Linked DNA regions of Homo sapiens. The protein of the gene in region 1 interacts with the protein of each later gene in a pairwise test. Each region holds a gene or a part of one and is shown on either strand. Other genes may lie near its edges.

Evidence for each region.
Region 2: the proteins of COX6A2 (region 1) and SNX21 interact in a two-hybrid assay, tested with the Homo sapiens proteins (one large-scale study listed by BioGRID and IntAct).

The regions. Positions count from the first base shown.
Region 1 is NC_000016.10:31,427,114-31,429,832, reverse strand, and holds COX6A2 (cytochrome c oxidase subunit 6A2, mitochondrial precursor), read left to right. Parts: upstream 1-1,472; 5' UTR 1,473-1,507; coding exon 1,508-1,580; intron 1,581-1,681; coding exon 1,682-1,818; intron 1,819-1,975; coding exon 1,976-2,059; 3' UTR 2,060-2,102; downstream 2,103-2,719. UniProt on the Homo sapiens protein: Component of the cytochrome c oxidase, the last enzyme in the mitochondrial electron transport chain which drives oxidative phosphorylation.
Region 2 is NC_000020.11:45,840,257-45,844,061, reverse strand, and holds the end of SNX21 (sorting nexin-21), read right to left. Parts: exon of another isoform or gene 3,757-3,805; coding exon of another isoform or gene 3,604-3,756; intron 3,424-3,603; coding exon 2,749-3,423; 3' UTR 2,225-2,748; coding exon of another isoform or gene 2,106-2,224; 3' UTR 2,030-2,105; coding exon of another isoform or gene 2,019-2,029; 3' UTR 786-2,018; downstream 1-785. Other genes in the region: ACOT8 (acyl-coenzyme A thioesterase 8), read left to right, coding at 341-535, 2,106-2,224. UniProt on the Homo sapiens protein: Binds to membranes enriched in phosphatidylinositol 3-phosphate (PtdIns(P3)) and phosphatidylinositol 4,5-bisphosphate. May be involved in several stages of intracellular trafficking.

The DNA.
Region 1 (2,719 bases):
ACTGTTCAGTTTATTACCAATGAGAAACAGGTATAGAGCCCCTTCTTGAAAATATATCTTCCTCGTTTTTTTTATATATTAAATTCAGATTATATGTCTATATAATTCATTCTTCTTTTGTATATTAAGTTCATATTAGTACATCAGCCCTTGATCAAAGCTAGAAGCTTCCTATTGGATTGTAATTCTGAAAAGGCATTGTTGTAGGGTTAACCAAAGTAACAAGGTTCAAGCATTCATTACATACATATTTTTAGAACACCTCCTTCATGCCAAGGTCCCTGCCCGTTGCTGAGGACAGAACAGGCAGATGTCATCCCTGCCTGGTCTTGTGGCTTTCTTGTGACCTGCTTTGATAGAGGGTTCACACCAGCCCTGTCTAGGCTTGCTTTCTCCAAGTAGTCATATTTTTCAGATTGAAATAATGCACTTTGCAGTAGACACCTGTCAGGCTTGTGGCTGCCTGGAACCTTTTGAATACTCATCCTAGACCTGGAGATTTTCCCTACAATTCCTGCCTCCCTAAGGCAGAATCCAGAGCTCAGTTTCCCATCCCCTCCTGCAGCTGGGGGACCTAGGGGTTGCCAGTTGGTGCAATCACATAATTCTTTCAGAAAAGAGCGACCCAGGATACAGGTTTCATGAAGAATCTGTTTTCAAGAGGGGATGAGGGTGGAAAATTCTGGTTTTCCAGGGCAGCCTTAATGAAGCTTTTGGCATCCAGGGTCCAGCAGTGTGAGCTGTGGGGGTGTCACTGCAGCTGGCCAACGGAATGACTTGTTTATGACTGTGCAGACTGTAGGCATCTCTGGCTATATCAGACATAGTAAGCTACCTAAGATTCTCAATTACTTATCTTCTAAAACTAGTAAGAGTGAGTTCTGTTCTTTGCAAAGAACTGTGACTAATACATATACTGAACTACTGTTACCTGCCAAAATCCAGGTTGACACATTCCTACCTTACATAAACTTCATAAAAATGATGTAAGGGCCGTGTAGTGGCTCATGCCTGTAATCCCAGCACTGTGGGAGGCTGAGGCGGGAGGATCACGTGAGCTCAAGAGTTCCACACCAGCCTGGACAATATAGTGAGATCCCCGTCTCCAGTATTTAAAAAATCTTTTAAGGTACGAATTATTATACATTTTACAGCTGAAAACACTGAGACTCAAAAAGACACTTAATTCATTCTACAAATATTTATTAAAGCCCAACTGTGTGCCAGCCACCAGGCATAGAATAGGGAACAAAATAGTTTCCCTGCAACTATATAAAAAGAATGGCATATTGTACTTAAATGCCTCCTTGCCAAAATAAGAGGCACAGGACAACAGCTGTCTGGAGATGACCTCAAGCCAGTCAGGCCCCATTTTAAATATAGAAACCCCTAAGAATAGCCGCCAGTGCTCCAGACTCAACAGGTGATTGGCCCAGAGAGGGGAGGTGACCCCAGGCCCCAGGAAAGGGAGCGAGGACAGCGCTGGTTCCCGGCTCCCCGCACCATCATGGCTTTGCCTCTGAGGCCCCTGACCCGGGGCTTGGCCAGCGCTGCCAAAGGAGGCCACGGAGGAGCAGGAGGTGAGTGGGGAACGGGCGGATCCGGGGGCTCCCCTACCCTGCCCACCTGTTCACAGGCCCGCCGCCCCAGGACCGCCGCGCTCACCCCGCTCCGTCCGCAGCTCGTACCTGGCGTCTGCTGACCTTCGTGCTGGCGCTGCCCAGCGTGGCCCTCTGCACCTTCAACTCCTATCTCCACTCGGGCCACCGCCCGCGCCCCGAGTTCCGTCCCTACCAACACCTCCGCATCCGCACCAAGGTACGCGGGACGGGCGCGCGGGCGGCACGGGGGTGCTGCGGGGGCGGGGGGGGGTGCTGCGGGGGCGGGGGGGGGTGCTGCGGGGGGGGGGTCGCGCGGGGCGCGGACTCCGGACTCACGGCGCTCACGCGCGCTCCCTCCCCCGCTCTCTCCACAGCCCTACCCCTGGGGGGACGGCAACCACACTCTGTTCCACAATAGCCACGTGAACCCTCTGCCCACGGGCTACGAACACCCCTGAGGCCCCGGACGCCCCCGGACACAATAAAGGTGTGAAGCTTCGAGTCTGCGGCTCTGTGGGGAGGGCGGGGCCACGGGGAGCGCGCCCAGAGGCGCCCGCTCCGCGCATGCGCCCAGCTTGGTAAGCGCTCCTGCTCCGCGCATGCGCCTAGCGCGGTGGGCGCTCCACGTGCTTTTCCCACGCCGCTGATACGGAGGTGCTCGAGGGAGCCTCCTCCACTCACAGGTAGGCGATCCCAGCTCCCTGTCTCTCACCTGGTAATAATGAGGCCTCCCTCTCACACACACCTATTAATAATTAGGGCTCTAGGCTGTAATGGGCTTCCGCGTACACCGAATCCTCACAGTAACGCTGGGAGCAGGGTATAAATTTAGTTCACCTTCTCCCGAGGAAGACCTGAGATTCTTGGGAATTAAATGACTTGTCCAAGTTCCGGCAGCTCGGCAGAGCCCCCATGGGAGCCCAGGGCTGCAGATCCTGAAGTCCCACTTCTTGCCTGACACCTGAGCTGCTGGTGTCTGTGAATCCCAGCTCTCTGGATTTCAGACGGAGGCTCCACAGTCCTGTGTGTGAGGCCTTGGGACCTAATGCTGGATTTGGAATCTTTTGATAATTCTCTATAATCTTTCTTTCTTTTTTTTTTTTTTTTTTTGAGACGGA
Region 2 (3,805 bases), on another chromosome or scaffold:
GGCCTTTCTGAGGAAGGCAAAAGGCACCTCGCTGGGGTTGTTGTCCAGCTTTGCTGCTAACTATAAAGTATCTTTGTGCAAATTGGAAGAAGACACCCCTTTTGGGGCCTAGAGTGGGAGACTTGGGTGGTGAAGACTGAATTTCAGTCCCTGCTCACCCCTGCCCTCCCCAAGTCGCCATCTCACTTCTCCCCTATCACACACACACACTGTAGGCCAAGCGCTCTTGTGCAGCAACCAGTCTGCACACCCATGCACGGGAGTCCCTTTTCCCCCTACCTCCGTGCAGGTCCTGAGCTGGAAAGCCCAGGAGCCCAGGGCTGATGGGGACCTGTTGCAGGCGAGGGCGACATGAAGATGCACTGCTGCGTGGCCGCCTATATCTCCGACTATGCCTTCTTGGGCACTGCACTGCTGCCTCACCAGTGGCAGCACAAGGTGCACTTCATGGTCTCACTGGACCATTCCATGTGGTTCCACGCCCCCTTCCGAGCTGACCACTGGATGCTCTATGAATGCGAGAGCCCCTGGGCCGGTGAGTGTGGGGCCGTGTGGGACAAGGGCACTGACCTTGAGTGGCAGGAGCCTGCTTTCTTGGGTGATGCTGATTTCCCGACTTCCTGTGTGGCGCTGCACAGGTCACTTCCTTTCCTTCCCTCCCAGGCTTTGGCATCTTCATCTTCAAAATGAGAGGGTGAGGCCGGGACACCTGCTCTGCTCTAAATTTCTAGAATGTGCTGGAAATGTGATTCACCTTCTCCCAGGGACCCAGTTCTAGTCCCAAAACCAGTTCAGATTCTTTGTATTACAATAGGCAAATCATATCTTCCATCTGAACCTCAGTTTCCTCATCTAAACAAAGAGGGTTACATTACAGCAGTGGTATCCAAACCCGCAGTCCATCAGACTGCCATTTGGGGATGCCTTTTCAAAATAGATTCTGATTCCACCCTCAAGATTCTCACTCAGTAGGTCTTGGATAAGGTCCAGGAAACTGTATTTTTAAGTTCTCTAAGTGATTCTGATTAACCTGATTGGGATCGGGGCATTCAGTGGTCCCTAAGGGCCTGCTTGGACCTTCCTTGCAGGGGAGAGAAACAAGACTCGTTCATCAATGTCTAGCTTCAGAACCCTGACCTCCTTTCCAAGGGAGTACATTTCAAATGAAGAAAAGCTTTGCTTGATAAACCAAGGACAAAACTCAAGGATTCTTTATACTCAGATAAGGGGTATTCTCAAGTACCAATAGCATCACAATCCAAGATTGATAACCTTGAAGTGAGGACATGGGTTCAGATTTGGCTTCATCATGGGGCCAAATTCCTGACCCTCTCTGGATTTCAGTCCTGGTCTGGAAAACTGGACAACACATAACTGCTTCATTTGGCTACTGTGAGAACTGAGTGAGCTCTGCTATGTGTAAGGGAAACCAGCAATCATCCTCATAAACATCAAACTTGGGCCCAAAGCCAGCAAGGGAGAAAGAGTCTCCAGATGGGGAGGGAAGAGGCCAGACCTCATGGCCTCAAGTCCTCTCTTCTGAGTCCTTTCTTCCCCTTGGTGGTGGTAGTGGGGATATTTTTCATGAATTACCACTTGGAGGACCTGGCTTGATTTATTATACAGGGAGCCGATAGTTTTCCTAACACAAGTGGTCAGAGGTACAGCAGTTCTGCTTGGCCGAGCTGTTGAAGGAGACTGTTCTCAGAGCTCCTCCCTCTGTGATCTTTTTGAGGAAGCGAGGAGAGGTGTGAAAGTGCTTTTAAACTGTCAACTGGGGTTCCTGTGGGAGGAGTTACCCCTCAATGACGGTCCATAATAAGCTCATGAAGGGGCATTTGGAGCAGCCACGACACTCAGTGCACCCTTGTGTGGGGCAGCCCTGCCCTGGGCCAGACCCTTTGCAAGAAGTCCACTTGGAGGTTGGGCATGGTGATGTGCGCCTGTAATCCCAGCTGCTCAGGAGGCTGAGGCGGGAGGATCCCTTGAACCCAGGCGCTTGAGACCAGCCTGGCAACTTAGTGAGACTCTGTTTCAGGAAAAAAAAAAAAAGTGTATTTGGCTGTTCTGAAGCAGGCCATCATCACCCTTCACCTCACCCACAGGTGGCTCTCGGGGGCTGGTCCATGGGCGGCTGTGGCGTCAGGATGGAGTCCTAGCTGTGACCTGTGCCCAGGAGGGCGTGATCCGAGTGAAGCCCCAGGTCTCAGAGAGCAAGCTGTAGCCAGAGGTACCAGCTTCGCCTGGGGCTTCAAGAACCTCCCATCTATCCCCATTCCTGAGACAGGAGTTACAGTCCCTTTTGGCCCTCACATCCAATAAAGAGACTGATACCACTGGAGTGGCTGGCTTTTAATTCCCCTGGGCCAGACCTGCAGCCTTGCCTTCATCCCTTAACTCCAGGACTCCAGGGGCAGAGTCCCTGGCCTTCAGCCAAGAGGCCTTGCCAGCTTGGGGGCCCACCAACAAGGGAACATTGCCCCAACCTGTGCCACAGCCCCCCGGCTGTTTATAGGCTGGAGAGGCTGTGTCAGACTTCCCTGTACTACACAAGGGCAACCCCAGCCAAAGCTCACCCTGAGCCTAGCTCAACAGAAGTTTCCTTGATCTGCTTCACATTCTCTTTTGGAACTTCTAGGGGCTCCCAGCACCCTCTGCAGCCTCCCAGCTATTCTGTTCTCATCAGGTCCTTCCCCTGCCTTCTGGGGCAACCCCTCTCCTCACAGTGGCCTTAAATCTAGGCAAGGGTTAGTCCAGCACCTCCTTGATGAGCAATTCTTTGAGACTGGGGGGTGGTGTGGGGGTAAGGCCTGCCTCCTGCAGGGCTTGGAGCCGAGCCTCTGATTGACGTTTGTCCAGGCCCAGGCGCCAGGAGAGCCGGACATGGGCCTCCAGAAAGGGTGCCAGCAAAGGGTGGAGGCTCTTGTCCCCAAGCAGCTGCAGGGCCTTCTCACAGCATGCCCGGGCCTCTCCAGGGTCTTCCAGCTCCTGGTGGCACACGGCCAGCCCAGCCAGGGTCAGCAGGGGGCGGTCTGGGCCAGAGGGGGTGCCCAGCTGGGCTTGCAGCTGCCAGGCATTGGCCCAGAGTGCCAGAGCCTCACGATAGAGGCCAGTACAGGTGAGGCTCTGTGCCCGCCGCAGCTCCGGCAGCACGAAGAAGTCCTGCAGGTCCGGGGCATGGCGCAGCTCAGGCACTGCCTGCAGGTGACCCAAAAACTGCTCAAAGGCCCGGCTACGGCGGGCAATGGTCTCTGCAGTAAAATTCCGGCGCAGCCGCTTACGGGGGAAGGAGATGGCAGCCATTGGGCCCCGGAATTGCCGCTGCAGGTTTCGGTGCAGCCGCTCAAAGTCCGAGTAACGGCGAGAGATCTGGGCTGGCTGGCAATCTGGCGGTCCTGGGCCGATCACGGCGAGGGTGTAGAGCTGCAGGGAGGGTGGGTGTCAGGGCAAATGCAAGTTGTCCACGGGCCCGTTCCCTCCCCATCCTTCCCCATCCCCCACACTCCCAGCTGTACCTCCCCACCTCTTCCTTTCACCCCTGGGACAGCACCCAGGAGGGCGGGAGCTGCTGCGCAGTGGCGGGGAAGCCCAGTCCCATCTTACCTGAGGTTTGTCTGAAATGACCCAGGCCCAAGGCAGCAAGAAGAGAGAAAGACAGAGATGAGCTTCAGTGCCCGGGGCTGCTGCCCCTTTTTTTGTACTCCCTTCCCATAGAGCATTAGTTCTTCTGACAGCCCCCTCTGGAAAACCAGACATAAGCTGAAACCCCAGCCAATCTCTTGGGGCTCCTTTAGGACCAGCTTGG